6 separate regions of the Homo sapiens genome follow, and all the other regions are reported to be linked to region 1. Evidence: microRNA targets listed by miRTarBase, many of them from high-throughput screens and not tested one by one. Region 1 holds a microRNA gene; each other region holds the end of a gene's coding sequence.

What was found. The annotated mature microRNA hsa-miR-3130-3p reads GCUGCACCGGAGACUGGGUAA and lies in region 1 at 2,868-2,888, opposite strand. An mRNA with a match to its seed (bases 2 to 7 or 8) in the 3' UTR can be bound and repressed. Matches are read on the target gene's strand: a 7mer-m8 pairs with bases 2 to 8, a 7mer-A1 pairs with bases 2 to 7 and ends in A, and an 8mer does both.
Region 2: miRTarBase lists GTPBP1 as a target of hsa-miR-3130-3p. Seed matches in the 3' UTR shown: 7mer-m8 at 4,184-4,190.
Region 3: the mRNA of PCYT2 is a reported target of hsa-miR-3130-3p. Seed matches in the 3' UTR shown: 8mer at 3,763-3,770, 7mer-m8 at 1,793-1,799 and 7mer-m8 at 1,434-1,440.
Region 4: the mRNA of FUT9 is a reported target of hsa-miR-3130-3p. Seed matches in the 3' UTR shown: 7mer-m8 at 2,557-2,563 and 7mer-A1 at 4,094-4,100.
Region 5: the mRNA of FGFRL1 is a reported target of hsa-miR-3130-3p. Seed matches in the 3' UTR shown: 7mer-A1 at 900-906, 7mer-A1 at 1,268-1,274, 7mer-A1 at 1,328-1,334 and 8mer at 1,415-1,422.
Region 6: miRTarBase lists ZNF460 as a target of hsa-miR-3130-3p. The part of its 3' UTR that is shown has no 7-base or 8-base seed match.

What each region holds. Positions count from the first base shown.
Region 1 is chr2:206,780,378-206,785,449 of GRCh38, forward strand. It overlaps MIR3130-1 (microRNA 3130-1), which reads right to left and starts at 2,931; the gene lies at 2,857-2,931. All of the region lies in intron 7 of FASTKD2 (FAST kinase domains 2), which reads left to right. MIR3130-2 (microRNA 3130-2) reads left to right here and starts at 2,857; the gene lies at 2,857-2,931.
Region 2 is chr22:38,730,168-38,735,239 of GRCh38, reverse strand. It overlaps GTPBP1 (GTP binding protein 1), which reads right to left. Exons shown (of 12, transcript NM_004286.5): 12 at 1,653-4,628. The coding sequence ends at 4,536. SUN2 (Sad1 and UNC84 domain containing 2) reads left to right here. Exons shown (of 18, transcript NM_015374.3): 18 at 1-506. Among named protein-coding and RNA genes, the nearest start is that of SUN2, 23 kb to the left of the region's middle. RefSeq lists an enhancer at 3,044-3,093.
Region 3 is chr17:81,900,711-81,905,782 of GRCh38, forward strand. PCYT2 (phosphate cytidylyltransferase 2, ethanolamine) reads right to left here. Exons shown (of 13, transcript NM_002861.5): 10 at 4,960-5,025; 11 at 4,672-4,737; 12 at 4,356-4,444; 13 at 248-4,234. The coding sequence ends at 4,123. NPB (neuropeptide B) reads left to right here and starts at 1,528. Exons shown (of 2, transcript NM_148896.5): 1 at 1,528-1,816; 2 at 1,910-2,195. The coding sequence starts at 1,568. The coding sequence ends at 2,038. RefSeq lists silencers at 1,186-1,235, 1,456-1,555, 1,646-2,005.
Region 4 is chr6:96,203,965-96,209,026 of GRCh38, forward strand. FUT9 (fucosyltransferase 9) reads left to right here. Exons shown (of 3, transcript NM_006581.4): 3 at 1-5,062. The coding sequence ends at 271. All of the region lies in intron 2 of UFL1-AS1 (UFL1 antisense RNA 1), which reads right to left. Among named protein-coding and RNA genes, the nearest start is that of FUT9, 190 kb to the left of the region's middle.
Region 5 is chr4:1,024,871-1,029,942 of GRCh38, forward strand. FGFRL1 (fibroblast growth factor receptor like 1) reads left to right here. Exons shown (of 7, transcript NM_001004356.3): 7 at 35-2,028. The coding sequence ends at 477. Among named protein-coding and RNA genes, the nearest start is that of FGFRL1, 16 kb to the left of the region's middle. RefSeq lists enhancers at 875-1,376, 1,377-1,876.
Region 6 is chr19:57,291,389-57,296,460 of GRCh38, reverse strand. It overlaps ZNF460 (zinc finger protein 460), which reads right to left. Exons shown (of 3, transcript NM_006635.4): 3 at 2,392-5,072. The coding sequence ends at 4,231. Among named protein-coding and RNA genes, the nearest start is that of ZNF460, 13 kb to the right of the region's middle.

The DNA of each region.
Region 1 (5,072 bases):
TGGTTGGCAATTTTTCTTTCAGCACTTTGAATACATTATCCCAGTCCCTTCTCTGGCCTGCAAAGTTTCTGCTAAGAAGTTCACTGCTAGTCTGATGGGGGCTCCCTTGTACATGAAAAGTTGCTTTTCATCCTTGTGGGAGATACGAGTTGCTTTTAAAGTTCTTTTTGTTTTTGAATTTTGACAGTTTGATTACAATGTATCTTAATGTATGTTTCTTTGGATTAATCTTATTTGGGGTCCTTTGAGCTTTATGAATCTGGATGTCCATTACTCTTTCTAGATTTGTGAAGTTTTCAGCCACTATTTCCTTAAATAAGCTTTCAGCTCCTTTTTTTCTTCTCCCGAGACACCCATAATGCACACATTGGTTTGCTTGTTGGTGTACTGTAAGTGTCTTAGGCTTTCTTAACTCTTCTTCTTTCTTTGTTCTTTTTTCTTTTTGGACTGGGTAATTTCACATGACCTGCTTCAAATTCTCCGATTCTCTTTTGCTTGCTGAAATATGCTGGTATGGCCCTCTAGTCAATTTTTCAGTTCAGTTATTATATTCTTTAGCTCCAGAATTGCTGTTTAGTTCTTTCTATAGTTTATCAATTCTTTGTTGATACTCTTATTTTGCTCATATATCATTTTCCTAATTTCATTTACTTTTCTGTGTTCTTATAAGACAATTATTTTTAGTTCTTTGTTGGGCAGTTCATAGATCTTCATCTCTTTAATGTTGATTACTGGACATTTATTTTGGTACTTTGATTGTGTTACATTTCCCTGATGCTCTTTCTTCCTTGTAGCTTTGCATTGGTGTCTGCACAATTAAAGAAACAGTCTCCTCTCCCTGTTTTTACAGACTGGCTTTGACAGGGAAAGACTCTTATTAATCAGCTTAGCCAGAGATTCTGGGGGCCTCTTAAACTTTTTCTATGATTTTTTTTTTTTTTTTTTTTTTTTTTTGAGACAGAGTTTTGATCTTTGTTGCCCAGGCTGGAGTGCAGTGGCACGATCTCGGCTTACTGCAACCTCTGCCTCCCAGGTTCAAGCGATTCTCCTGTCTCAGCCTCCCAAGTAGGTGGGATTACAGGCACCTGCCACCACGCCTGGCTAATTTTTGTAGTTTTGGTAGAGACGGGGTTTCACCATTTTGGCCAGGCTGGTCTACAACTCCTGACCTCAGGTGATCCACCCACCTTGGCCTCCCAAAGTGCTGGGATTACAGGCATGAGCCACCATGCCTGGCCTGAATGTGTTTATGGATTTCTAAGTAGAGGGATTTACTGGTTTCTTTTTTTTAATTTCTTTTTTTTTTTTTTTTTCCAGTATCAGGGAATGTCTTGCTCCCTCTGGTGTCTGACTGCTGTACTACAGTCGGGGACATAGATGCTCCTCTCCTTTCTCTCCTTCGCTGTAGAGAAGCCTTGAGTTGTGCTGTCTGCTGCAAGCCACTGACCCCTTTTTTTCCTACTTAACTGCTCCTGAGCATTCAAACTATGCTGGTTTCGTCCGCTCTCCTTGTGAGGTGAGATAGAAACCAGCTCCTTGGACAGCTCACCAAAAGGCTAGGATGTTGAAGACATGCTCCACTCCTCTCATTTCCTCCTGAGGCTGAATCCTCGGGTTGCGTACCTTCTCTCAATCTCTCAGAGCTGTGCTGAGTGCAGGAAGCTGTCCACCCCTTTTCCTTTGTTCTTAACTGCTCTCAGGCATCTGAACCCTGCTGGTTTTGTTAGTATTCCACGTGAGTTTAGACAGAAATCCAGCCCCTAGGGCAGCACAGTGAAAAGCCGGATGTTGGTTGCACACTCTACTCTCTCCCTCCAAGGGAGAAGTCCTAGGCCAAGGTGATCTCCTTGGTGCTGAGCTGTGCCGGCTTTGGGGAGGGGCTGACCTGGGTAAAATGTTCTTCTTGCCTGTTTCAGTGCAACTCTTCTTGGTTTTGTTCTTGTCTGGAGTACGACAATATCTTAATTGGTTTCTGGACTTTTCATAAAGGTATTTTTGTCTATATGTCCTTGCTAAATCAGTGTTTCTGAGAAGCTGTGAGAACTGGACCTTCTTCTAGTTCAGTTTTGACCTTAACTATTCATTTGGTCTCAAGCTACTGCTTTCTATTCTTTTCATTTTAACCACAGCCATGCATTCCTACTATTAAATACAGTAATTCCTCAAATGTGCCAGCTTCTTTCATACCTCTGCTTTCTACCCAGAACATCTTTTCTTACTCTTTGGATCAGTCAGGGTTCATTAAAAATCAGAAAAGCATATAAAATGTCATTTGTTAAAACAGTGATTAAAAGCATGGACTCTAGAGCTAGCTTGCTTAGGTTTGAGTTTCAGCATTGCCATTTGTTAGCTGCTTGACTTTTGGCAAATTACTTATCTGTGCCTCAGTTTATTCACTTATTAAAATGGAGATGAGCTATGTCTAATCTCATTGGGTTGTTATTAGAATTAAATGAGTTAATCTATGTCAAGTTCTTATGACAATGCCCAGCACATAGTAATTTTTAGATTTGAAAAAAATTAGAGTGTAGGTCACAGAGGCCTTGGGGGAACAAACTAGGGCAGTTGTGAAGGTCTCAGTGGCAAGATGCACAGGCCATCTGTTTGCCATCAAATGACTTGACTCCAGCTGCTTGCTTTCCTTTTAGTTTTCCCTCCAGATTTAGATTTCTGAAAGAGAACATCTGATTGACTGAGTTTGAGTCAAATGCCCATCCCTTAGGGGCAGTTAATCAATTAAGTGGTGTCAGGCCAACTAAAAAGCAGCTTCCCACTGTACTGTCCACTGAATGGACAGACTCAGCTCATACTGCATTTCCTGTGTCTTCCCTAATTGTCACCGTCAGAGTCCCTGTGCTTGTCATGTCTTACCCAGTCTCCGGTGCAGCCTTGACAACAGGCTGCACCGGAGACTGGGTAAGACATGACAAGTTGTGTCACATCATTTGTTGTGTCAGTAAGTCTGTCTCTGCTCCTCAGTTGGTAAGCTCTCCGGAGTCCGACCCAGCTGCCTGTTTTTCTGAACTTAGTACAGGACCTGCCAAAGAGTAGACATTTAATAAAGGTCGAAAAATATCTCCCAAATTCAATCTTCCTTTACTCCCCTGGCTTCATTTTCTTCTGAGGCTGGCTCCCATTGATGCCTTGTACTTTCTAGACAAATAATATCAAGCTAAGTGGTAATTAAAACTCCAGAAACAGCCCCAGAGGGATTAAGAGAGTAAGTACTGGGCGGGTAAGAGTTTTTCAGGTGACTCCAGGCAACCTGAGAGATAACTTGTTCCAACAAAATTGTTACATTGAAAATAGAGGGGGGATAACAAAGGTAACAAAGGCTGGGAGGACATTTAATAAAATGGCAGTAGTAGAATTAGTACAGGAGGAGAATCATGAATGTTGTCTTTTTGTCTGTCTATTCTGCTTTCATTTAACCTAGTGGTTTTCAAACAGGGATGATTTTGCCTCCCAGGGGACATTTGGCAAGGTATGGAGATGGTTTTTAGTTGCCACAACAGGAGGGAGGTCTGTGCTACTGGCCTCTAGTGGACAGAGGCCAGGGGTGCCGCTAACATCCTACTATGCAGAAGATAGCCCCTCACAATAAGGAATTATCCAGCCCCGGATGTTAGTAGTGCTGAGATTGAGAAACCCTTACCTAATTCTAAGCCTCCCACCTCAACATTTCTCCAAAGGAGAAGTAGGGGCAATATGGCAGATATAGCAAGATTAATTAGTCACCATTTCCTGAATGCCCATGAATGTACAATTGCCTGGATTTGGTATTTTGAAGGCTATAAAAAAAGAAGTTTGTATTCCCTGCTCTTCCTAGACCATTTATGAGAACAACTCTGTTGTATATCCAGAGGAAGGCAGTACATGGTAGGCACCAAGTAAGTGCTTTATGGAGGAAGGAGAAAGGAAGATGGCAACTTATCTGGAGTAGCAAAGGTTTTGGAAGCAGAATAACTCAAAGTATTTGGGAAGAGAGTTGACTAGAAGAGATGGTTAGATAGGAGAGTGGTAGGAATTCTGGCTTATTGTATACCCACATGCTATACATTAATCATTATTTCATTTATGATGGCCCATCGGGGAGAGGGTGTTAAATCCAGAGTATCTTGCTGGGCTTTGAACCCAAGGAACAAATATGTAACGTTTAAGCTCTGTTGTTTTGGTCCTTTGGTTTCTTCTCTTCTTGATCTGTATTTACCACCTTATGGATAATCCCACATTTGCATCTGTGGTCATTAGTGTGCTCCTTAACTCCAGACCTGAGTCTCTGTGGGTTGCATATGGTCACTGCACATCCCAGAAGTGTCTCAAGTTCAGTAATTCTGGAAGTCAGCTATTTTTCTTGACTCATCGTTTTCCAATGACAAGCTCGTCCTCCTGTCTTCCTCATCAAAGTTTATTTGTTCGTTTAGTCAGCATTTGCCAAGCACCTGGACACTTAGGAGAAAGATGAATAAGACAGTCCTTCTTGCCAGAGGATTCTGTGTAATGGGTAAGGTAGATATGTAAATTGGCAGTTAAATATAGCATGAAAATTCGAGTGATCTAGCATATTAGTCTGTTTTCACGCAGCTGATAAAGACATACCCGAGACTGGGCACTTTACAAAAGAAAGAGGTTTAATGGACTCACAGTTCCACATGGCTGGGGAGGCCCCACAATCATGGCAGAAGATGAAAGGCACATCTCACAGGGCAGCAGACAAGAGAGACAGCCAAGCAAAAGGGGTTTCCCCTTATAAAACTATCAGATCTCGTGAGACTTATTGACTACCACAAGAAGAGTATGGGGGAAACCACCCCCATGATTCAGCTATCTACCACTGGGTCCCTCACAACACAAGGGAATTATAGGAGCTACAATTCAAAATGAGATTTGGGTGGGGACACAGCCAAACCATATCATCTAGGATATTTGGAAATAGAGGAAGGATATATCAGGATGCCAGCCTGGTGAAGAGGAGGGTCAGGGGATATCAGGCAGTGTTGCCTGGAGGGGTTGGTATCTGAGCTGATCTTAAAAGATGGAGAGATGGGGTTTTACCATGGAAAGATAAGCAG
Region 2 (5,072 bases), not on the chromosome of region 1:
CCCTTCTGGTTTGTTCTCTGTGGGGCAGTTGGTGGGGGCTGGGGGAAGAGGCTGGCAGAAGTTACCCTGGATAGGGAAGGGGGAGGAGGGGACTTTTAGAGCCAGCAGGCCCCACTGTATTATGTATATATTTTTCAAGGTCTGTTTTTCTAACTGAAAAGCTAAGGGCTTGATTCCTAGCCCCGTTCTGTGGGGCACTGGGTGATACTCAGTTTCTTGTTCCTGGCCGTGGAGAGGGGCCTGGGGCACTGGTTCCGGCTGTGTCTGGTGGTCTGGCTGCGGGGAAGGGGCAAGAAGGCGGGCAGGCCTTCACTGCAGCACTGAGCCTCAAATCCGCTCTGGAGCATGAGGCTGGATGCAGTGGTGGTGAGGCCGCCCCGCTCCATCCCGAGGCAGCCAGGGTTTGTTTTGCGCTCTCCTGTCACAAATGCTGCACTATTGGTTCTTAAGTTTTTTATCTCCAGATCCTAATTTATGCCTATGCAAAAAATAAATGACGCCCAAGAGCTGTGGGATGTGGCTTTCATGTGGCTTTTGCCTATCACCTAGGGCAGCTGCTCTTGGGCAGATGAGGGAATGAATTCTTGGCCAAACGAATGTCCCCAAAGACTTATTCCTGAAGTTCAGAAACCCACAACTTTCAGCTAAAGCCCAGTTGTGGTGGGGGATGGGACCTGAGGCAGGTCTCCTCCAGTGTTTGTGGGTCAAGGGCTGGCATGAGGAAGCAGTGAGGTGGCTTTATTAGCTGTCATTGATAACCCATCACAAAGGGTGGGGCGGGAGCAGTGGGGCTTTCCTGTCTCTCAGTACCACTGAACAGCAGCAGAAAAAGTTACACTTACCTACCAGCCACGTCCACTTGGAGTGCAGTGATTCTCCTCCATGGGAATTCGCTATTTGCCCCTTGGACCTGTGACTGGGAAGGGACAAGGAGGTAGGTCCCTTGAACAGCCAGCAGCTTAGGAGAAAAACAGGCCCTGACCTTTCCCACAGATAGCTCCCCAGACCTGGTTCGCGTGGTTCTCTAGCCTGATCCTGGAGCCTCTCATACTGACCGTGGCACCTGGCCCAGGGCTGCTCCTCATCATGGCTGAGAAAACAAAGGCAGAAAGCCAGTCAGTAGGGAGGACTGTGGAGACAGCCACAAGGCAGGAGCTGGGTGAGGCACAAATCCAGCCCCCAAAGCCTTGGGCCAGCTCCTCAGCCTCTTGGGAGACAGCTGGTCCTGTGCTCACTCCCCTTCACTGACACCTGCTCTGCCTCTGACGCCATCTAAACAAAGGAGACATCCCCACGCAGCACCAATAAACAAGCCCCTGGAAGTTGCCACACACTGTGGCAAGAGTCCAGAGCCTGGGCTGGGCACATGCCCTCTGCCCATCTGTACATTCAAATCCTACTGGGCCCTCACAGCACAGCCCTCACACTGCCGGCTCCATGGTACTTCCCCCAACCCAACTAAACCTGTGCTGCCCCTGTGCGTGGCATATTCATCCCTGTGACCTTCTCTGTGCCAGGGTGGCTGATAAGCCAGAACAGTCCTGACTGTGGAGTCAGGGGTCTGGCCATCCCCATCCCACCATCACAGGCCTTACTCCTGGGAAAGACGCCACAAACACCTGCTGCACACACAGAAGGGTCAGGCCTTGCCATTGGAGGTGATTGGATTAACAATTTTATTCTGCATCCACTACAAAAGGGCTGGTGTTTTGTTCCAAATGTTTAGCTGGGAGGGCTGTAGGGACCCCTGTTACCCCCATTAAACACAGTAAAGCATGGATCCAGTCAGCCCCCTGCTGGCAGGTGTGGGCCTGGCAACTACACAGATCCAACCCCACCCTCCTGGGTGCGGCCAGAGGCCAAGGCAGTCGCCCGAGCTCCTGAATCCCAAGAATGGTTCTGGCAAGTACTGCTGTTTGTTTGTAGGGGCAAAGAGTTAAAATAAAACGAGGTTCTGCCATGGCTAAGCCTTGTGGAAACCAGACCCCAAAGCCCCTGCCATGCCAGGGGTCTCAACGCCAGACGCTTGTTATGGAGGCACCAGCAGGTAGTGGCCCCTGTAAGCAGGGCCAGAGTCGGGACAAAGAGCAGGAGTGAAGCAGCCAAGAGACAGAGGACCAGGCTGGAGCCAGTGGGCACGCAGGAGCCTGCCTGGGAAAAGCCGGGGGGCAAGGCTGGCATGGGAATGAACACCTGCTGGTGACACCTCTCTGAGCTTCAGTTCCCTTAACTAGAAAAATAGAACAGGCCCGGTGCGGTGGCTCATACCTGTAATCCCAGCACTTTGGGAGGCTGAGGCGGGTGGATCATGAGGTCAGGAGATCAAGACCACCCTGGCCGACATGGCGAAACCCTGTCTCTACTAAAATACAAAAAGTTAGCTGGGCGTGGTGGCGTGCACCTGTAGTCCCAGCTACTCAGAAGGCTGAGGCAGAGAATCACTTGAAACTGGCAGGCGGAGGTTGCAGTGAGCAGAGATCACACCACTGCACTCCAGCCTGGCAACACAGCGAGACTCCGTCTCAAAAAAGAAAAAGAAAAACAGAACAAACATCGACCTCAGGGGCGGCTGCTGGGAATGTCAACAGGAGCGTGTGAGACTCCTGGCAGTCCCAGCCAGAGCTTTCCTTTGGAGCCTGCCCAGGGCACAGAGGTGGCAGGGTGGCTAACGGTGTGCAGACCGCTCACTGAGCAAGCCTTTCCCTTGTGTAGGACACCCCAGGGCCTCACATTCTCTGAATCCACACAAGGTGATGGATGGCTTTGCCTCTTGTAAATGAGAAAACTGAGGTTCAGAGAAGGTTTGTAAGCTTGTCCCGTGTCACCAGCTGGTGAGGGAGCCTGAACACGGAAGCCATGCCTGCCTGACTGGGAAAGCTGGGCTCCTCACAGCACTGCCCTGCTCCCAGCTGTCGCCAGGGGCCCCAGGGCAGGCAGAGCAACTGCGTTCCCGTGGCAGCACCTCCACCTGGAGGGGCTGGGCAGGGAGCACCACACTGTCAACTTGGAACAAACTTTTATTTTGAATGCTGGTCTGATCAGTCCACGGCCAGGGGTAGGTGGTAACTAGAAACAGCTGGAAGGAGGGAAGGAGAGGGGACCAGCAGTCCGCAAGCAGGAGGAAAGGAAAGGGTTGGGGACAGGAGGAGGCAAGGCTGAGGAAGGACCCAGCCAGCTGGGTGTCTGCCCCGGCTAGAGAACGAACCACCCCCACCCACCAGCCTACCCTCCATCTGTGGCTTCAGTGCAGAAGTCAGTCCAGGTGGGTTCAGGCCCATGCCACCTTCTCTGGCCTGCACAGTCCCACCCCAGGCAGGGGTTCTTCCAGAAGGCTAAATGCTCTGTCCTAACCCTGGAAGTGTCCTTTCACTAACCCCTGCCTGCCCGCCCCACGCTCCAGTTGGGTCTTTCAAACCTGGAGCTCAGGCCTTCACTACTGTGCTCCTGTAGCAGCCACAGGGGTGGCGTGGTGGGGAAGATGGGGTTCTAGTCTCAGCCTGGCTCAGGGAAGATGGGGTTCTAGTCTCAGCCTGGCTCAGGGGAACATCCCTCCACCCCTCCAACAGGAGGTGCTACAAAACATGATCCTGAGCAGACCCAGACCCCCTTCTGGTAACCAGTGCCTGAGGCCCAACAAGAAGCGGGGTGATGGGAGGCTCCAGGCCGGGCAGATCAGCGAAAGCTGAGGGCAGCCAGGGCCGGCCCAGGCAAACGCAGGATTGTCTCCAAGGGGAAACCCACCAGCTGTCTTTGGGTTGGTGGCAAGGGTCAGGGTCAGGGCCCGAGATGGGGAGAGTCCTATAATCCCATCGCCATTCCCCTCCACATGTCTCCAGGTTACAACCAGAGAGCTTTTGGCATGACCTGAATCTGTGGGCTTAAAGGGAAAAAGGAGGAGAGAGAGAAAAGGGAAGCCACTACTTTCTCCCTGTTAAAATGCCCAAGTCCTAGACTGGGGGTTCCTGCTCTGGCAGCAGCAGACACCAAATCCCAGAAGCCCCTCCACCCGGTCTGGCTCCATGGAAGGTGCCCCTGAGTGCCAAGAGGAGCAGCAAGATAGGGAGGGCGGCTCCTTCCCCTCCTGACATCCCCTGACCGCCCCGAGGATTCTCAGAGACAGATACGCAGGCAGACAGCCATGGAGGAGAAAAGAGAGGTTGACAGGGCCCTGGGGGTGGCACTCCTGCACCACACACACACACACACACACACACACACACACACACACAATAGAGAGAGACAGAGACATATAATAAACAGAATAAAAACTAAGGGCCCAGATGTACAAAAAATGTGTGAGTGAGGAAGAAGGTGGGGAGGACAGTGAGAGATGGTCAGTCCTCCGGAAGTCTGGCTACCTTCGTCAGCTTATAAATTACAACCCCCCTGGAAAATGGGGGTGGGGGCAATGCGGAGGCTCCGGCTGTGGCCTGAGCGGGAGGGCTGGGTGGCGGTCATAGCTGCTCTGCCCATCTGGTGGAGTGGTGGCCAGAGATGATGACCCCTTGGGTGGTGAGGGTGGGCCAGGGGAAGGTTCAGCAGCCGCTGGCAGGAGTCACACAGGCCCCCTGGGACTTCACCTTGTGGCGCTGGCCCCCTCGTCGCCGGCCTCCACTGCTGGGCTTAGGCTGAAAGAGAGAGAAGGAGCTTGAGAAGCACTGGCCCATCAGGAGCAGGGCCAGAGAGCAGAGGTGCTGAGCAGCGGGGAGACAGGGACGGAAGATGCGTGAGCAGGCTGCGTGGTCCTCACCCTAGCCTGACCAGGAATTTACTGGGTCACTCTGCATGCAGCACCTCCCCTCTGTCTCTAAAATGGAGCCAGTGCCTGCCCTGCCTTCCTTACAGGGTGGGTAGGACACACATGATGAGGGTGTGAGAAGCGGCCGTTCAGAGAAGCACAAAGCAGAGCAGGAGAGAGAGAAAGGAAGCGAACGAACCAGAGGAAAGACCCATGGGAGACAGATAACAGAATGGACAGACAGATCCAGGCATAGCCTCCTTTTCCAATGAGGGGACAATGGAGAAAGATGCTGGGGAGAGGGGTGCAAGGGGCACCAGGCCTTCATCACGCC
Region 3 (5,072 bases), not on the chromosome of region 1:
TTGTGTGCCTCTGCTCCCCACAATCGTGGTGGGAAGGGGCCGCTGGGGGAGTGGCAGCCCCGGCATCTCAGGCTGCTTCTGGACAGAGCACAGGCTGTGTCTCCAGTAACCTAGGGAGCCCTTGGCATTCATGGGGCCAGTGACCCGTGCCCAGTGTCTCTTGACCCTTCCTCACAGCAACCTGAGGAGTAGACCAGGCCTCACCTGAAATCTGTGTCAGGGTTCTCTAGAGAGACAGGACTCTATATGAAGAGTATATATGAAGAGTTTATTGGGAGTATTGACTCACGTGATCACAAGGTGAAGTCCCACAATAAGCCATGTGCAAGGTGAGGAGCAAGGAAGCCAGTCTGAGTCCCAAAACAAAAGTAGAGAAGCCGATAGTGCAGCCTTCATCCTGTGGCCAAAGGCTGCAGAGCCCCTGGCAAGCCACTGGTGTAGGTCCGAGAGTCCAAAAGCTGAAGAACCTGGAGGCCGACGTGCGAGGGCGGGAAGCATCCAGCATGGGAGAAAGATGGAGGCCAGATTCAGCCAGTCTAGTCTTTCCACGTTCCTCTGCCTGCTTGTATCCTGGCTGTGCTGGCAGCCGATTAGGTGGTGCCCACCTGGATTGAGGGTGGGTCTGCCTCTCCCAGCCCACTGACTCAAATGGGAATCTCCTCTGGCAACACCCTCACAGACACACCCAGTGACAATACTTTGCATCCTTCAATCCAGTCAAGCTGACACTCAGCATTCACCATCACACCTGGGAAGCATGGAACCCAGAAACAAGTGCCAGGGCTCCAGTGCCAGTGCCTGTCCTGGGAAGATACCCAAGAGAAGACATGACCAGGACCTTGGGGGAGCATGAAATGGTGAGGGCACAGTGAGCTTGAAGGCTGATGTCACCTGCCAGGAGAGCGGCTGGCAGTCCTGCCTGGTGCCCCCCAAGGGGCAGAGCTGGCAGAGAGGGGCCTCCAATCGAAGGCCAGGAGTCGTGGAGCTCCAGTGCCTTGGTGTGGCTGGCCTTCTTGCCCCCCTCCCAGAGGACCCCGCCAGTAACAGCCCTGCTGGTGGAACCTTCCCCAGTGGGCATGAAAGAAATGAGGGCCCCACAAGCCACATGGACTCTGATGCCTGGAGCCAAGAATACCCCTTAGGGTGGTAGAAACCGCCCCCGGGGCACTGTGCAGTGTGGCTGGCTCTCCAGCATCAGGAGTACTGGGGATTGCCTGGGGGACGACTCCTAGGGCTGGGCGCCCGTGGGCCCTCCCCTGCTGCCACTGCGGCCCACGCAAGCCGGGCCTGAAGGGCGCGAGCGGCATGGGTGGGGAGCTTGAGGGGGCGTTGGGCTCCCACCAAGCGCCAGATCCTTGCGCGCCTCCAGCGCTCGCCCGCGCGGCTGGTTCCTTTGGGATGCGGAGGTGCGACGGCTCCTCCGCGCGCGCCCGCTGCACCCCAGCCCGCCCGCCGCCCCTCCCGGCCCTCCGCAGCCTCGGCCCGCCCTCGCCGCAGATATAAGGCGGCCCAGGCGGTGGCTGCTCCGAGCCCGGACGCCGCCGCCCACCAGTCAGCCGGCGTCCCCATGGCCCGGTCCGCGACACTGGCGGCCGCCGCCCTGGCGCTGTGCCTGCTGCTGGCGCCGCCTGGCCTCGCGTGGTACAAGCCAGCGGCGGGGCACAGCTCCTACTCGGTGGGCCGCGCCGCGGGGCTGCTGTCCGGCCTCCGCAGGTCCCCGTACGCGCGGCGCTCCCAGCCCTACAGAGGGGCGGAACCCCCGGGCGGGGCCGGCGCCTCCCCGGAGCTGCAACTGCACCCCAGGCTGCGGAGCCTCGTGAGTCCGGCGTGCCGGGGACTGATGGGGGGCGGCGGCAGGACGTGGGTGGGGGTGCGGCGGCCCCTCAGCCTTTGCTTGCCTGCCCCCCAGGCTGTGTGCGTCCAGGACGTCGCCCCAAACCTGCAGAGGTGCGAGCGGCTCCCCGACGGCCGCGGGACCTACCAGTGCAAGGCGAACGTCTTCCTGTCCCTGCGCGCAGCCGACTGCCTCGCCGCCTGAGCCCGGACCTCTCCTGGCACCGCTGGGGGCCCCCCGCCCCCACCGTCCCACTCGGTGACCCCAGGCCCCTCCGGCGCGGGATGGCGCCCCAGGTCTCCCCTACTCCGCTCACCCCGCAGTTAATGGCAAACGAATAAATAAATGAGGCGGCCTCGGAGTGAGGGGTGCTGGAGGACTGGCAGCCAGGCCACGAGGGGAACGGGACCTGGAAATCCCCAAGCCTGGGTATGAGAAGGCAGCCGAGTGTGCGGCGGCAGGGCAAGGTTGGCCTGGGCCGCCCAGAGGTCTTCAGACCCAGGGGCGAAGCTGGCCACGACCCAGCCCCGCGGTGAAGCCGCGCCTAGCCTTGGTGCTCCCTGGGGGAAGTGCAGGGCCACGGCTGGCCCGGTTCCCAGTGTCCTCCCCCAGCCCTTCGCTCCCCAACTCGAGAGCCAAATCTGTGAGGGCATGGGCTGGAGCCCCTGGCTGCCTTCCTCTTGCCCCCATCCCTTCTGGCCAGGCCAAGTCCGAGGGTGCAGGGGCAAGGAGGAGAGTTGGGGGCCTGAGCCCTGGCTCCAGAGGCCCAGAGCATGCCTCCCCAGAGCTGAAGGTGGGAGATGGGTAGGTTCTCCCTCCGCCGTTGGGTGTGACTCCGGAACTGGCTTGGGCTCTGGCCTCCAATGCTGCTACGGGGCCAGGCCCACCTCCGGGCCCAGGCAGCAGCACTGCAGGGCCTTTCTACCCTCCCCAAGCCTGGGGCCCAGGCAGCCCCTGTCCAGCACCAATCTGTCTATGGGGAACTGGCTGGTCCCTCTGCTCAGGGGACCCCGCAGTCCAGGGTTCTGAGTGGGAGCATTGGCACCACCCCACTCCTGAAAGCGGGGGCCTGGCAGGATGAGGATGGCCTGTGCCCCCCACACCTTGGCCCCTGGCTCGGAGAGCAGGGTGACAGGCTGCCTTCCTGGGCTGTGGAGAGCCTCGCGTGCACCTCGCCTCCAGCTCCTGTGCTGGGTCGTGAGGTCGACCTCACAACAGCAGAGGACAGGCCCATGGGGTGCCACATGGGCCAGGTGCTGTAGGGCAGAGGCCATTCTGGAGAGGAATGTGGGGCTGAAAAAAGTACTGATCATAAGCCTCATTTTGAATGCGGCGAGACCAGGCAATCTATGGCCTCCCTAGACACCTCCCGGAGGCTGCAGTAAGAACCTCTTCGGCCTCTGGGCTGCTCCAGGCGGGCCGTGACAGGGGTGTGGGAGACAGAGATCCCATGGCCCCTGGAGGGGCCAAGGGGCAAGGAGCCTCAGCTCTGGCTCTCCTCCTTATTCTAGCATCGCCTGCTACAGGGGGTGGCCCCAGGCTTTGGAGGGCTGGAGGCCTGGGTTTCACTCACTGCCAGGCTGCCCGCTGCACTCCCGGCTGCTGGGTGCATGGTGGGGGCAGGGCCAAGAGGGTCTCCTTGCTGAGTGGTTCCCTGGTCCTTCCCAGCAGGGCTGGGAGCCCCGCGCAGCACTGCCACCAGGCTTTATTCGGTTGTACCAAAGAGATTTCCGTCAGCCATGTACAAACAGAACAGAGTCCATAAGGAGAGTGGCGAAGCTGCCGGGAAGGAAGGCAAGCGTGTTTTCCTGGAGCCAGGCGCTGGGTGGCAGGACACCGTGTTGGGGGGTGCCCAGTGGGAGGTGGTGTGGTCTACACCCAGAGAACTAAAGGGGTGACCGCAGTCACTGCTCCCTAAAGCCCTCTGCTCTGCACCTCCCGCCACAGCTGGGTGGGCAGTCAGTGTGGCCTCTGTCCAGGTGGTGGGGGCATCCGGGGACCAGGTGGGGGCGCACGCAGGAGCGGTGCGTTTCAGGCTGCAGGTGCCGTCTGCCCGTCTCACTTCCGGCCTCTCCACTGTGCTGGACACCCTCTCTGAGCAGCTTTGCTGGAAAGAGCGGAGAGCCTGCTGCAAACCAGGCACCTTGTAGGCAGGCAAGGAGGCAGAGTCCTCACCAGCCCTTCCAGAGCCAGGCCAGTTAGAGAGGGCGGCCCTGCAGAGTCCTATGTCCAAACGCAGAAGGCGCAGAAGCAGAGCAGGGGGAGGGCCGGCCAGGGCCTCTGCCAGGTTAGAAGTCACCATCGCGCTCCCCCAGGGGCTGTGCCGCCTGCTGCCTGGCAGCCTCCAGGAAGGCCAGCTCCTTGGCTTCCTTCTTCTGGTTTCGCGCCTCATACTCCAACCTGAGAGGGCAGGGTAAGTCTAGCAGAGAGCGCCCATGAGGCGGCTCCGAGGGGGAGGGCACGGTAAGTCTAGCGGAGAGCGCCCATGAGGCGGCTCCGAGGTGCCCCCACCCAACTGCACCTGTTGGTGATGATCCGCTGGACGATGAGGTCTGTGGTGAGGTTGCTGCCACTGTCAATCTGACGGAAGATGCCCCTTCTCTTGGGCTCCTGGGGGTCCAGAGAGGAGGAGCGGGATGAAGGTCCCTGCTGACCTCCCCAAGACCCATCTGATGCCCTGCCCCAGAGGGAGACCAGCGCCCAGGGTCCCATGGGAGTGGTGCAGTCGGAGCAGCTGCGCCACCATGCCCGTTTCCCAGGCAGGCACAGTGAGTCATTAAATGGCTGGGAGGTGCCAATGGCAACCCCTGTGCCCAGCAAGGGCCAGCATGACCCACCTGGTATGGGTCGGAGCCATCCCTGTCAGGGATAATTTCTGTCTTGCCGTGACACACCAGGTCCACCTGGAGAAGGAGTGGGGTCAGGAGCCCTCCCCGGGGAGGCAGCGGCCGTCGCCACCCACAGCCCAGCACAGGCCCCGGGGGTTGGGAGAGCTGACCCTGCCCTTTCCTCAGCCCAGGTACCTCCTGGGCCCCGCCTAGGAGCCCACAGCCAGCCTGCATTCCCAGCCCATGCAGGAACAGAGGTGAACAGAGGGAACGAGGTGAGCCCATGCGGAGCCTCACCTTGAAGTGACTTAGGAGCTCTGCTGTGACCGCGTACGGGGCTCCAATCACCACTTCTGACACGTACTGTGGGGACAGTGGGGGCAGAAAGACTTGCTCGGTCCCTGCTACTG
Region 4 (5,062 bases), not on the chromosome of region 1:
GGGACCATCTAGGGAAAACTATGAGAATTATATTCCAGCAGATTCATTCATTCATGTGGAAGATTATAACTCTCCCAGTGAGCTAGCAAAGTATCTGAAGGAAGTCGACAAAAACAATAAGTTATACCTTAGTTACTTTAACTGGAGGAAGGATTTCACTGTAAATCTTCCACGATTTTGGGAATCACATGCATGTTTGGCTTGCGATCATGTGAAAAGGCATCAAGAATATAAGTCTGTTGGTAATTTAGAGAAATGGTTTTGGAATTAAAATTTTTCATCACTTGCACACTTGATAAATATTTTGATGAGATATCATCCAAGTATTGAGGATAAGAAGAGATGCAACATACTACTTTTGTGTCACAATTTATTTTTATCACCCTCTCTAGGGTAACGTGTATATTTTGGTGGAGATTTTTAAAAGCTCAGCATGAGCAATCATTCCATTCGGTTTTAAATTATCCTGTATATACCTAATTATGTGCACTGGAGAGTAATTTATTCTTCATTATCATTTGTAAACATTGTTTTTTCACATTTTTGTAGTTGTCCATAATGTAAGCTTGTGGTTTGATTATTGTTTCCACACTGATCAGCTGTTTAATCTATTTGGGAAATGAAGATGCACATCTTAAAGTATGAAAAATTTTCACTAAGTATTACAATGTCTAGTTCCAACTTTGCATACTATAACAGAGGAAGAACATGTTGCGATTGAATTCTAACCTCTTTGACTCCGAAGATGAATGAAGTGTATAACTGTCTCTATTTGATCTATTTTTTTTACCTGTTTATCACATTTGTGAAGGTGAAATTATTCATGGAGTGAATAAGAAAGATATGAAGCAGAACTGTTCTATTCGGGAAGCTATTAGACTTCTCATTTATTTTCATTAAGCTGATTTGCAGCTACTTATTCTCATGGTCTTAAATTAAATTATTCAAGTATTTTTAAATATCCAATTTGTTGTGATTTTCAGCACCTGGGAAGTAATCCCAATAATACTTTAGAAAATCTAAGACAGTTCTTTCTGCTACTGATGACACTCATTGTCATAATAAAACAAATAATTTCCTCAAATAACAAAGAAAAATGATACCTATAAATATATTTATAAATGGTGTCATTTATGAACAATGTTTAATTATGTATCAATTTAAGATTTTTTTCTGAAGCCCTAATATTTAAAATGGTCTTATTTTACCATATGGATATAAGATTTGGCTCATAATGATGAGCCCTATCATTTGATTTGAGTTCTATCATTTAAGAGAGCCTAAATAAAATTATCATCAAGGTATTAAATATAAGACGTTAAATATAATAAAGTGGGGATATATAGAAAACACACAGTGTTAGCACACAGTAAGATCTCAATGCACATTTGTTGGATGAATAAATAAATGCAATTGAATTCCCAGAAAAATGATTGTTTCAAGGAAGTGACAGTTCTACTTTAGAAGTACTAATTGGAGATGACTTTTATATCCCATTTTGGTAATTATTCATACATAGCACATATGACCATGATGTTCAGGGCTTTATAGAACCAAATAAACCTACCATTACATGAAAATTTTGAAGAGTATATTCCTGAACTTGCAGCTGCCTATAGCATTCTCCTCCATAAGGCTAGAGGAGAGCTGGATATAAGCAGAGATCGTAGGTGAAAAAAGATGGGCCATTAAGGATTCTTCAAGGAAAACATTCCTCAAAATGATCTTTAGTGCCTTTATTCCTTTCAGGCCAATAATCCACCCAAAAATTAGAATGTTCTGAGACATCCATTTGGGTCTATTTGTGACTTATTCGTATTACAAATTGACATCAGCAAAATTCAAAAAGAATTCAGTAAAAAGGGCATAGATCCAGCTATCCAGACTATCTTGTGAGAGAATAAGCTCACCCCAGCACCAGAAAGATTTGAGCAGAGGAATATTCCTGTAATGAATAGAGGATTGTTTGATTCTCAGGTATATTTCTTAAGCCAAGATTGAATGCAGTGTCAGGCACTGCCTTAACACCCACAGAGATAAGATGAACAAGGTACTATCACTGCCTAAAATGAGCTTACAATTAAGTGGATAGACATATAAAAGCTTCCTTTCAATTCAGCCTGAGACTGTTTATATGCATGTGCTACTCCGAATGACGTTTGTATGGGTCAATGCTGATTTAATGGGGAAAAAAAGTAGAAAATTTCCCCAATTGCTTAGCTGTTTGACATGTTTCTGAGCTGCAAACTTTGTCAACTCTTTTGACCCAACATATTATTCTCTCCGTATTATCTCTTCTAACCACAATGCATTAAGAAATAATATTTTTATGTGGATGTCCTCCTCAATAAGTAAAGATCTCCATCCATATTTAATTAATTGGTAAGACAGTCAAATTCATACATTTACATTTACTTTGTCAAATTTTTTGGTCTATAAAAAGCATAGAGATCTAAAGAGGATACACTGCTAACAAGTTTAGAAAGCACCTGCTTTTTTTTATTATTATTATTTTTGTGATAGAGTCTTGCTCTGTCGCCCAGGCCGGAGTGCAGTGGTGCAGTCTCGGCTCACTGCAACCTCGGCCTCCCAGGTTCAAGTGATTCTCCTGTATCAGCCTCCCGAGTAGCTAGGATTACAGGCGTGTACCACTATGCCTGGCTAGTTTTTGTATTTTTAGTAGAGATGGGTTTCACTGTGTTGGCCAGGCTGGTCTTGAACTCCTGACCTCAAATGATCCACTTGCCTCAGCCTCCCAAAGTGCTGGGATTACAGGTATGAGCCACTGTGTCTGGCCCACCTGTTTTTTTTGAAGGCAGAAAAACATTCAATATTAAAAGCATTCAATATTATTTCAACCTGCCTTGGCTCTAGTGAATGTTCATGATTTGAAAGAACTGAAAGACCTAAAGGCAGTGTCTCTATTGTTGACTACAAATGTAGGCTCTTTGTTGGACTATGACTATAATCACACACTGATAATATGACGCAAGTAGAGGCAGTACTACTAAGTATCTAGCAGGTGCTTTGAAACCCCATTACTAAGTCCCAGAAGACTGTTTCCTAAATTTGAAGTGGAAGAATTAAATGACTCAATGGAACCCTTTAGCTGTGGGTCCATTGATGTGTGAGTTTTAGAGCTGGAAGGAATTATAATTTTGTTGTTTATAATTGCTATAATATAGAAATTATAATTGCTTTTCTTTCTACTTATGAGTTAACTAGATCCAGAGATATTTATTCAAGACACACATTCACACACACATACACACACACACACACACACCCCACAGCTAGTGACAATAGTTAAGATTTGGATTTAAGGATCCTATCTTTCTTTATCCCACTTTCTTTTCAATCGCATTCATAACTTATTATAGAATTATGTCTCAATTTTTACAAATGTGAATGTCTTATTGGTATTTTTAGGGCCTATAGAATGGTACACCTCATGTAGAAGAACTTCGACTTTTGAAGGTATACAATAAATAAAACATCAAACTTGTTAGCATTCGTTCTGGTTTAAATATTTTAGGAGTTGAGTTCAGCAGAAGGAAATGGGCTATCACTACATTTAAGTGAAATACAACCCTCAAGAAAGTGTATGGTTCACAGCCACTCCTTTAATAAATCCTGTGGGTTGCAATTCTTTGTAAGAAACTCATGAAAAAGATATATTGATTCAACAAAATTGGTTTGCTGTTGATTATACAAACCAATAATTATGCCTAGAATTAAATTGTGGACACAAAAAAGGGAACAGACCATTTAAAATGTTTTATTTCAAAATATCGAAAAGCTATTACCTTCAATACTCTAAATATTTAAATATTAATTATTGTAGACATCAGTAAGAATAAATAAATGTTAATCATTATAGACCTTACTAATAAGAATATATACTGAATTGTCCACATCCAGAGTATTACACCCTGAACAAGAAAGACATGAGAGCCTGACAGTCATATATATTATGACAGCTGTATATCTGACAATATGAAGTAGAAACTGAAAAAAAAAATCATCTTAGTGGGAAACAAATACATGCTTAAAATTGTTATATTTACTGTAAAACTCCTGATAATCTTAGATTGTGCAGAAATGTTTCTTATTTTGAGGGGCTTAGAAAGCTCAGCGCATTTGATGTATAAAGCAACAGAATATTTAGGAATTATTTGCGGAGGCTTTAAATTCTTACCTCCAATTGGAGGTTAAATATTAAAAGAATAGGAAACTATGCCTCTGATATTTTTTTTGTCAGCCTATTTTTAAACTAGATTCCATGAGTCTTAAGGTAATATCCTAGAATTTTTTTTTTGCGTGAATTAAAGTTACCACAAATTTCAGGTCCTTACCTTATGACTGTGTTTGATCATATCTTTGAGTTCCCTTGAACTCTGATCTCATTTTGAGAAACATTTTGAGAAACTTCTTAACAATTACAATCGAGCTGTTAAATATAACAAACATCAGAATCTAAAGGATAAGCACAGTGCCTAATGTACAGGAGGGTCATATCAAATACTTGTTGAATAAATACATGAATGTGATAAGTGGTCCTGTAAAATATTTTTTAAGAGTAGTGACAATGTTTATTGGTACCAATTGGAGATGATATTTTATATTTATTTTGTTAGTTTGTCACCTGGATGCAAAAGGAAGGCATTTTAATTCCTTTCTATCTTACAACATTGTAAAGCATCAAAAGAAGTAACATCTCAAGAAAGATTAGAAAGGATTTGGATCACGTTAACATTCTATGCAAATATTAGTAACATATCAACTGTTTCTAAAAGGAAAGAAAATTAGTATTTAAGGAGAGTATAAAGTGCGAGCACTGTGAAGGGCAGATATCTATTACCAAACCACATGGAGAGAAATATAGTCTCTCTCCTAACTTCATTCCATTGTATTGCAATCAGTCAATTAAGGTGATTTTTTTTTTCTGGATGTCTCAATCTAGAGATTTTGTAGCATTTTGCAAATGGGTATGCTTCACTACTATCCACAGTGTTCTCCCCTTTAGTAATTCATATTGAATATATCCATATTCATATGCATT
Region 5 (5,072 bases), not on the chromosome of region 1:
CCCCTCCCTACCTCCTTTCCTCTCGCTCTTGCAGACCCAAAACCGCCAGGGCCACCTGTGGCCTCCTCGTCCTCGGCCACTAGCCTGCCGTGGCCCGTGGTCATCGGCATCCCAGCCGGCGCTGTCTTCATCCTGGGCACCCTGCTCCTGTGGCTTTGCCAGGCCCAGAAGAAGCCGTGCACCCCCGCGCCTGCCCCTCCCCTGCCTGGGCACCGCCCGCCGGGGACGGCCCGCGACCGCAGCGGAGACAAGGACCTTCCCTCGTTGGCCGCCCTCAGCGCTGGCCCTGGTGTGGGGCTGTGTGAGGAGCATGGGTCTCCGGCAGCCCCCCAGCACTTACTGGGCCCAGGCCCAGTTGCTGGCCCTAAGTTGTACCCCAAACTCTACACAGACATCCACACACACACACACACACACTCTCACACACACTCACACGTGGAGGGCAAGGTCCACCAGCACATCCACTATCAGTGCTAGACGGCACCGTATCTGCAGTGGGCACGGGGGGGCCGGCCAGACAGGCAGACTGGGAGGATGGAGGACGGAGCTGCAGACGAAGGCAGGGGACCCATGGCGAGGAGGAATGGCCAGCACCCCAGGCAGTCTGTGTGTGAGGCATAGCCCCTGGACACACACACACAGACACACACACTGCCTGGATGCATGTATGCACACACATGCGCGCACACGTGCTCCCTGAAGGCACACGTACGCACACACGCACATGCACAGATATGCCGCCTGGGCACACAGATAAGCTGCCCAAATGCACGCACACGCACAGAGACATGCCAGAACATACAAGGACATGCTGCCTGAACATACACACGCACACCCATGCGCAGATGTGCTGCCTGGACACACACACACACACGGATATGCTGTCTGGACGCACACACGTGCAGATATGGTATCCGGACACACACGTGCACAGATATGCTGCCTGGACACACAGATAATGCTGCCTTGACACACACATGCACGGATATTGCCTGGACACACACACACACACGTGTGCACAGATATGCTGTCTGGACACGCACACACATGCAGATATGCTGCCTGGACACACACTTCCAGACACACGTGCACAGGCGCAGATATGCTGCCTGGACACACGCAGATATGCTGTCTAGTCACACACACACGCAGACATGCTGTCCGGACACACACACGCATGCACAGATATGCTGTCCGGACACACACACGCACGCAGATATGCTGCCTGGACACACACACAGATAATGCTGCCTCAACACTCACACACGTGCAGATATTGCCTGGACACACACATGTGCACAGATATGCTGTCTGGACATGCACACACGTGCAGATATGCTGTCCGGATACACACGCACGCACACATGCAGATATGCTGCCTGGGCACACACTTCCGGACACACATGCACACACAGGTGCAGATATGCTGCCTGGACACACGCAGACTGACGTGCTTTTGGGAGGGTGTGCCGTGAAGCCTGCAGTACGTGTGCCGTGAGGCTCATAGTTGATGAGGGACTTTCCCTGCTCCACCGTCACTCCCCCAACTCTGCCCGCCTCTGTCCCCGCCTCAGTCCCCGCCTCCATCCCCGCCTCTGTCCCCTGGCCTTGGCGGCTATTTTTGCCACCTGCCTTGGGTGCCCAGGAGTCCCCTACTGCTGTGGGCTGGGGTTGGGGGCACAGCAGCCCCAAGCCTGAGAGGCTGGAGCCCATGGCTAGTGGCTCATCCCCACTGCATTCTCCCCCTGACACAGAGAAGGGGCCTTGGTATTTATATTTAAGAAATGAAGATAATATTAATAATGATGGAAGGAAGACTGGGTTGCAGGGACTGTGGTCTCTCCTGGGGCCCGGGACCCGCCTGGTCTTTCAGCCATGCTGATGACCACACCCCGTCCAGGCCAGACACCACCCCCCACCCCACTGTCGTGGTGGCCCCAGATCTCTGTAATTTTATGTAGAGTTTGAGCTGAAGCCCCGTATATTTAATTTATTTTGTTAAACATGAAAGTGCATCCTTTCCCTCCAGGCTGGTGTTTCTGCCCATGTCTACATGCACGTGTGCATGCTCGTGTGTGCTCACATTTGTGCCTGTGTGTCAGGCCTGGTCTCCAGAACCAGCAGCCTAACCCTCTTGGAGTCCCCTCGCTGGGCCAGAGCCACAGGGGCTGAGAACTGCACCTCCCGGCGGGAGAGTTTGGGTATACTGGGCTTCGGTGGTGTTGGGCGTGAGCACTGCCCACATGCCTGGCCAGGCCTGCGTCCTGCACCCCTGTCCCAGCGGCGCCCTCTCTGTGTCCTGGGGCTGGCACCTATGGCCCTCAGTGCAGGGCCTGGCCACTCCCCAGCCCCTCCTCAGGCTTTGGTGGGTGGCCCTACAGGAGGCAGCAGACTGGCCTCAGAGCTGGGGATGGGGCCAGGCTCAGGTCACCTCTGACCTCAGGGCTCCGTCCGAGTGCCCTCCCAGCCACCCTGCGGTGCTGCGACGGTGGCCGACCCCATCTTACCCGGTCAGCAGGAGGGGTGGGGCTGCCAGCTCCACCCGGGGCCCTTGCCTGCCGGGGGTTCCGTTAGCCTCGTAAGAAAAGGCACCGGGGCCCCTCGTGCATTCAGCAAAGCGTGAGGCCCACTGCGTCCCCGGAGCCTGGTCCTGCTGGCGTGCAGCGCGCTTCCTGACCCGCTCTGGTTCTGAGAGCTTTTCCCTGGAGGAAGCTCACCCTGCCTGGCTTCAAAGACGACAGGTGGGCTCTGGGGAGAGGTGTCAGGGACCTCTCCCCAACTGGAGCTTCTGGGGACCCCATGGCTTTCAAGATGTCCCCTTTTTGTTCTCTGTCCTCCCCAGGGTAGACCCTACTTCTCTCCCCTGAGGAAGTCCTGACTCCTTGGACGGTGACAGCTTCAGGCATGGCCCTGGTAAGGGCTGCGTGTGGCTGATGGGTGCTGTGGGAGGCCTGGCCACCCTGACTGGGGGACAGTGGGGGCTCCACGCGGCCCACAGCTGGCAGCCAAACAGATGTTCCCCAGACAGGACAGGCTGCAGGCCGACGCCTGGTCGGGTTTCAGTCTGGAGTAGGGGAGGGTGGAAGGGAGACCTCAGGCGTCTGGCCACCTTGGGCAGCAGGGAGGCCTCAGGCAGCGGGTCATGGGGTTGCAGAGGACAGGCTGCCCCTCCCCAGGGAGTGGGCGGAGGGATGGGCAGTCCGAGAGGGCTGTCCCCTAGAGCCTCTGAAGGAGACACTGGGACCGCAGACCCCACGCCTGCACCCTGCCTGCTGTGAGGTCCAGGCCCCCACTCAGGGCCACCCTTGACTTGTGGTCCAGCCCATCTTGCGCCTGCCCACAGGAGGTGCTGACTAGTGCTGTGTGGTCCTCAACGGACAGGTCTGGCACAGCCTAGCCTCTGGGTCTTGGGCTCTGGACTTTGTCATGCTGTGGCCACGTTGGATGCCAGGCTGGGCAGGGGGACCCCAAGGAGTCAGGACAGACCCATCTCCTGCCTATGGGGCCCCAGCCACCCCCGGGCCAATAGCCTGGAGCTCAGACCCCTCAGTCCTTCCCTAGCCTTCCTCAGGGGCTGCCTGGAGCCCCTGCTTTCTCCCCTGCGACTTCCAGACCCTTCCCCCTTGGCCGTCCAGTCCCGAGAGCCTTGCTCCCGCCCCCACGCCCCTCTGTTCGGCGGTCTCCAGCCTGAGCCTGCCGGGGCCCTGCCCTGTGGACGCCTGGCCTGTGTTCCTGGCTGTCTCTTGCCTGGCCCTGCCCCGTGGACTCCTGTCCCCGTGGCTCCTGTCCCCCCACCAGCCACACGGCCATCCCGATGCCGTTTCCCGCATCTCCGTCACGGCAGCACGCGTCTGTGCCCTGCGCCGGCTCCCTCGTCACATCTGCACGTCCACACTCCCAAGAACAAAATTGCGTTCCCCTCCCCTCCACGTGCAGGAGGCCTGGGAGCACAGAGGCCCCGTGTGCTTCGAGGACTTGAGGCAGGAGGCGGGCAGAGGCGCCCAGGGCGTGAGTGTGGCCAGCAGGACAGAGGGCAGGACTGCGCTTCTGACAGTGGTCTGCTCCGGCCAAGCACCTGAAAGATGGGGAGCCCTTCACCCCAGGCTCACTGGCCAGGAGGCTCGAAGGGCCGGGTGGGGCTTGTGGGAGGTGGGGGTGCCGCTCTGTGGGCCCCGTCTCACCTGTCCTGCCCGGGTCACCTGCACACCATTGCACCATGGGGGCTCCAGGCCCAGGAAGAGACCGACACACACGCGTCGGGAGGCTCCTTGGGGGCCAGCGGGCTTCTGGGCAATGCCCTTGCAGGGGTGGGGCTGGGGCATGGAATCTGAGGGGCAGGGCGACCGAGGGGGCCCAGGGAGAAGGGAGGAGCCCAGAGTGGCAGCCGTCTCCCCAGGGAGGGGCTGCACCTGGGGCTTCCTGGCTCTTCCACTGTCACCCTTCACGTGGGCAAGACCAGGTCCCATGCCCTTGGCCACCACAGGAAGGTCATGGGGCAGCTCGTGCTGTGGGGACGGGAACAGGGCTGGGCACCCGTCCCTGGCTCTGTCCTGGGCTGCTGGTGGTGTGGGTTGTAGTGGTGGGGGTTGCAGCCCAGGAGTCAACGGAGGGGACCTGGCTGTGTCCTCAGGGCGGCCCCCAGGCCAGGCCCTTTGGGTACGAGATGGTGGTGCCCGGGGGAGGCTCAGCATGGCGGGGCAGGGTGTGGGCACGGGGCCAGGCCCATGGTCCTCCCTGGCCCTGTCCTGGTGGTGATAAGCTGCTTCCCTGTAAAGCCCGGCTAACTTGAAAGTGCTGCCCAGGCTCCAACACCCCCGGGTGTGACCCGCCCCCGCCCGGCCCTCCTGGCTTCAAAGGGGTGCCCATAAGCCGCCTGCAGCTGTCCCGGGGGTGCCTGCGTCTGCTGCCAGGGACAGGGTGGCAGCATGAGGCAGAGATAGGGGATGTGGGCAGCCCCACCCAATGGGCCCGTGGGTCAGAGGACCTGGCCAGAGATCACAGCCTTGTCCCAGGCCGAGGCTGGGGGCTGGGGGACCGGGTCAGGAACGTGGGACGAGGAGCACAGATGGGGC
Region 6 (5,072 bases), not on the chromosome of region 1:
ATGATGAAAACTCTTAACAAATTACACATAATAATAGAAAGAATGGGCCGGCCGCGGTGGCTTACACCTGTAATCCCAGCACTTTGGGAGGCCGAGGCGGGCGGATCACGAGGTCAGGAGATCAAGATCATCCTGGCTAACATGGTGAAAACCCATCTCTACTAAAAATACAAAAAATTAGCCAGGCATGGTGGTGGGCACCTGTAGTTCCAGCTACTTGGGAGGCTGAGGCAGGAGAATGGTGTGAACCCAGAAGGCGGAGCTTGCAGTGAGCTGAGATCATGCCACTGCACTCCAGCTGGGCGACAGAGCGAGACTCCATCTCAAAAAAAAAATTAAAAAAAATTATAATAATAATAGAAAGAACGTACCTCAACATAATAAAGGTAATAAGTAACATACCCACAGCTAACATCATGCATAATGGGAAAGTGCTGAAAGCTTTCTCTCTATAATCTGAAACAAAACAAGTATGCCCACTTTCACACCTTTTAACAAAGTACAAAAGGTCTGAGACAGAGTAATCAGGCAAGACAAAGAAATAAAGGGCATGCAGATCAGGAAGCATGAAGTCAAATTATCCCTGTATGCACATGACAGGATCAAATATATAGAAAACCCTAAACTCCAAAAGTGGCACCAAAAAAATCTTAGGACTGATAAATTCACTGAACTTGCAGGATATAAAATCAACATGCAAAAATCAGCAGCATTTCTATACACCAACAATGAATTAGCTGAAAAAGAAATCAAGAAAGCCATCCCATTTACAATACTTCAACAAAAATAAAATAAGAATACATGGAAAACTATATAACACTGATGAAGTAAATCAAAGAGGACACACATAAAAAAGGAAAAACATCCCATGGTCATGGATTAGAATGGTTACTATAAAAATGAACATACTTTCCTGTAAGAGATAGCTTATGAAAAAAAATGAACATACTACCTCAAGTGATCTACAGATTCAATGCACTCTTAACAAAATACCAATGACATTTTTCACAGAAATAGAAATAGTAATCCTAAAATTCATGATATCACAGAAGATACTGAATATCCAAAGCAATCCTAAGCAAAAAGAACAAAATGGGAGTCATCACACTACCTGACCTTGAAATATACTACAAAGTGATGGTAACCAAAACAGCATGGTTCAGGTATTTTTTAAAAACCACACAAACCAATGGAACAAAACAGAGAGCCCAGGAATAAATCCCATTTACAGCCAACTGATTTCTAACAAAGGCACAAAGAACATTCACTGGGAAAAGGACAGTCTCTTCAATAAATGGTGCTGGGACACTGGATATTCATATGCAGAAGAATGAAAGTAGACTCATCTCTCACCATACACAAAAATCAACTCAAAACACCAAGTATGCTGGCTCATACCTGTAATCTTAGCTACTCAGAAGGCTGAGTTGTGGCTCACTTGAGTCCAGGAGTTCAGGACCAAGCTGGGCAATGTGGTGAGACTATGTCTCTAAAAAATAATTAAAAAGCAAAAACAAAAATTGGGAATGTATTTTTAGGGCAATTTGAATCTATGCTCTCAGGATAATCAACTCAAAATGGTTTGAAAGCTTAAATGTAAGAGCAAAAACTATGAAACTACAGAAGAAAACATAGGGGAAATGCTTCTGGATATTGGTCTGGGCAAGGATTTTATGAATACCTGAAAATCAAGGTAACAAAAGCACAAATAAACAAAGGGATTATATTAAACTAAAAAACTTCTGCACAGCAAAGGAAACAACAGAATGAAGAGACAACTAGTAGAGTGGGATAAAATATTTGCAAACTATTCATCTGAAAGGGATTAATATCCAGAATATAAAAGGAACTCAATAGCAAAAAAAATAAAAATAAAAAATCTGATTTTAAAATGGGTAAATAAGGTGAATAGACATCCCTCAAAAGGAGACATACAAATGGCCAAGTATATGAAAAAATGCTCAACATCACTAATCAGGGAAATGCAAATCAAAACCACAATGAGATATAATTTCACCTCAGTTAGGATGGCTATTACCAAAGATAAAAAATAAAAAATGCTGCTGAGAACATGGAAAAGGGGGAACTCTTATATATGGCTGGTAGGAATGCTAATTAGTATAGCCATATGGAAAACAGTATGAATGTTCCTCAAAAATCTAAAACTATAGCCAGGCACGGTGGTGTGTGCCTGTAGTCCCAGCTACTCAGGAGGCTGAGGTGCAGGACTGCTTGAGCCCAGGAGTCTGAGACCAGCCTGAATAACACAGCAAGACCCCATTTTAAAAAATGAAAAATAAACAAAAGTTAAAAATACAACTACCATATGATCCACTGGTAATGATCTATACCACTACTGGGCATATATGCAAAAACAAATATATCTATACGTCAAAGAGAGATCTACACTCCTATGTTTATTGAAGCACTATTCATAATAGCTAAGAAATCAGTCTAAGTGTCCATTATCAGATGAATGAAGAAAGAAAACATGGCATATATACACAATGGAATACTACTCAGCCATGAAAAATAAACCTGTCATTCACAGCAACATGAATGAGCTTGAAAGACATTAAGTGAAATAAGCTAGACACAGAAAGAGAAATACTCCATGTTTCTACTCATATGCAAGCATAAAAGGTTGAGAATGGTGGTAACCAGAGGCTGGGAAGGACAGCAGAGAGGCAGATAGAGATTGGTTAACAAATACAAAATTACAGCAAGTAAGATTCCATTTGAATAAGTTGTAGTGTTCTGTGGCACTGCAGAATGAGTACAATTGGCAATAATACATTTTATATTTTCAAATAGCTAGAAAAGCAGACTGTGAATGTTTCTAAACACAAAGAAATGATAAATGATTGAGATGGATATGCTAATTACCCTGATTTGATCATTACTCTTAGCACACATGTATTGAAATATCACACCAAACCCCATAAACATTGTCAATTAAAAACAATAAAAGAAACAAAAAGAATACCAAAAGAGAAATTCCAAAATATTCTGATTAAACATATTAATTACTACGACTGGACTCAATCCATGGTGACAACTACCTGCATATACATATGCAGGTTCACCTGTTAAAATTCCAGTCACTTTATGTATAGTCAGCCTTCACACAATCTTCTGTAAGACTGAAAAATGAGATTCCTTCTCTGTGTTTATTTTCTGAGTTTATCATAATCTTTTAACTTACTTTAGCTACATGTCTTATTTCATTTTTGGTTCCAAATTGACCTCTAGAAAATTGTTGAGGTGAATTTTGAACTATTTACTCTCTCTAAAGAGCAGTAAAAAAGCTGAGAAACCACAATCAGAGGGAAGAATTAGGACTCCCTGGATTACATTATGTACAAACAGCTACAATATCATCTCCATCCTACAGAAAAATAAAGAAGAAATTGACAAGTAGATCCAGATCAAGAAAAAAGTATGGTACTGGGTGGTTAAAGACACACGGAGAAACAATTTTTTTAAAAAAGTCAAAGCGTCTGAAGTGTGCAGTAAAATGTGCCCATTCATATGTACATCCTTTATCTCCTTAAATGTAAAAGTATTTCATAACTCAAGCCTCCATCTTTCTCATAAAGATATATGCTTCTGCTCCTCAAGAGTGGAGACAATGCTGTGGAACAAAGCAGGCTTTCACAAAATGTTTTCAAACAAACCGTTTGTCTACAGCACTGGACAGCAGTGAATGTATACACAGGGAAAATAAAGGGGATGAGGCCCTTTTGTTTCTGAAACATTTCCCTCTCCCAAATAAAATAAGGAGGGGATGACAAATTGCCATGGGCTTGTCAGGGAAGTCTGAAAGAAGCTGTGCTTCCATTTCTTTCTCTTCCCTATGACTCCTCCTCCTTTGTTTGAATGTCCCTGAGATAACATTTCACTGTAAACTAATAAGAAAGATGTGGCTGAAGGTTTTCCTAAGTGCACAGTAACCACTGGGTCTCTTTCATGGGTGAATTATCAGATGTAGAATAAGACTCTTGGCTGTGTCAATTTCTAACATAATTGTTTAGATGACAAATGATGATCTAAAACAGGTTTTCCCACAGAGATGATACTTATGGAGTTTCTCTTCAGTATGAATGACCAGATGGTAAGATGTTTCCTCTCACCACAGATTTTCTTCAGTGGTTATATTAAAAAACTATTTCGCTAATAGGAATTCTTGGATGTTGACTGAAGTGTACGTAAAAAGTCTTTCCACATCTGTTACAATGGTAGGGTTTCTTCCACTATGAATCCGTTGATGTCGAGTGAGGAGGAATGAGCGGCAATTGAAGGCGTTTCCATATTCACTGCACTCACTGGGCTACTCTCAGTGTGGATGATGGAGTGTTGAATGAGATCTGTGCTCTCACAAGAAACGTTCCCACTCTGGATGGGTTCGTGGGACTTCTCTGCAGTGTGAATCCGCTGGTGCCTTGTGAGGGGTGACCTGCGGTTGAAGGCCTTCCCGCACTCCACGCATTCATAGGGCTTCTCTCCAGTGTGGATGCTAAAGTGTCGAATCAGGTTTGTGGTCCGACAAAAGGCTTTCCCACATTGGATGCATACATACGGCTTCTCTCCAGTATGAATCCACTGGTGCCTTGTGAGCCCTGACATGCGGGTAAAAGCCTTTCCACACTGTAAACACTCATAGGGCTTCTCTCCAGTGTGGATGTTGAAGTGTCGAATGAGGTCTTTTCGAATGCTAAAGGCTTTCCCACATTCTTTGCACTCAAAAGGCTTTTCTCCAGTGTGGGCTCTTTCATGCAGGACATAGGTGGAATAGTGAGTGAAGGCCTTTCCACATTGACTGCACACAAAGGGCTTCTCACCAGTGTGAATCCGCTCATGCTGCTTGAGGTGTGACCTGCAGTTGAAGGCCTTCCCACACTCAAGGCACTTAAAGGGCCTCTCCCCAGTATGGATAATGAAGTGTTGAATGAGGGCTGTACTCTCATAAAAGCCTTTTCCACATTCGCTGCATGCGAAGGGTTTCTTCTCATTGTGGCTCTTGTTATGCAAGACAAAATTGGAGCGGTAGGTAAAGGCCTTTCCACATTCAT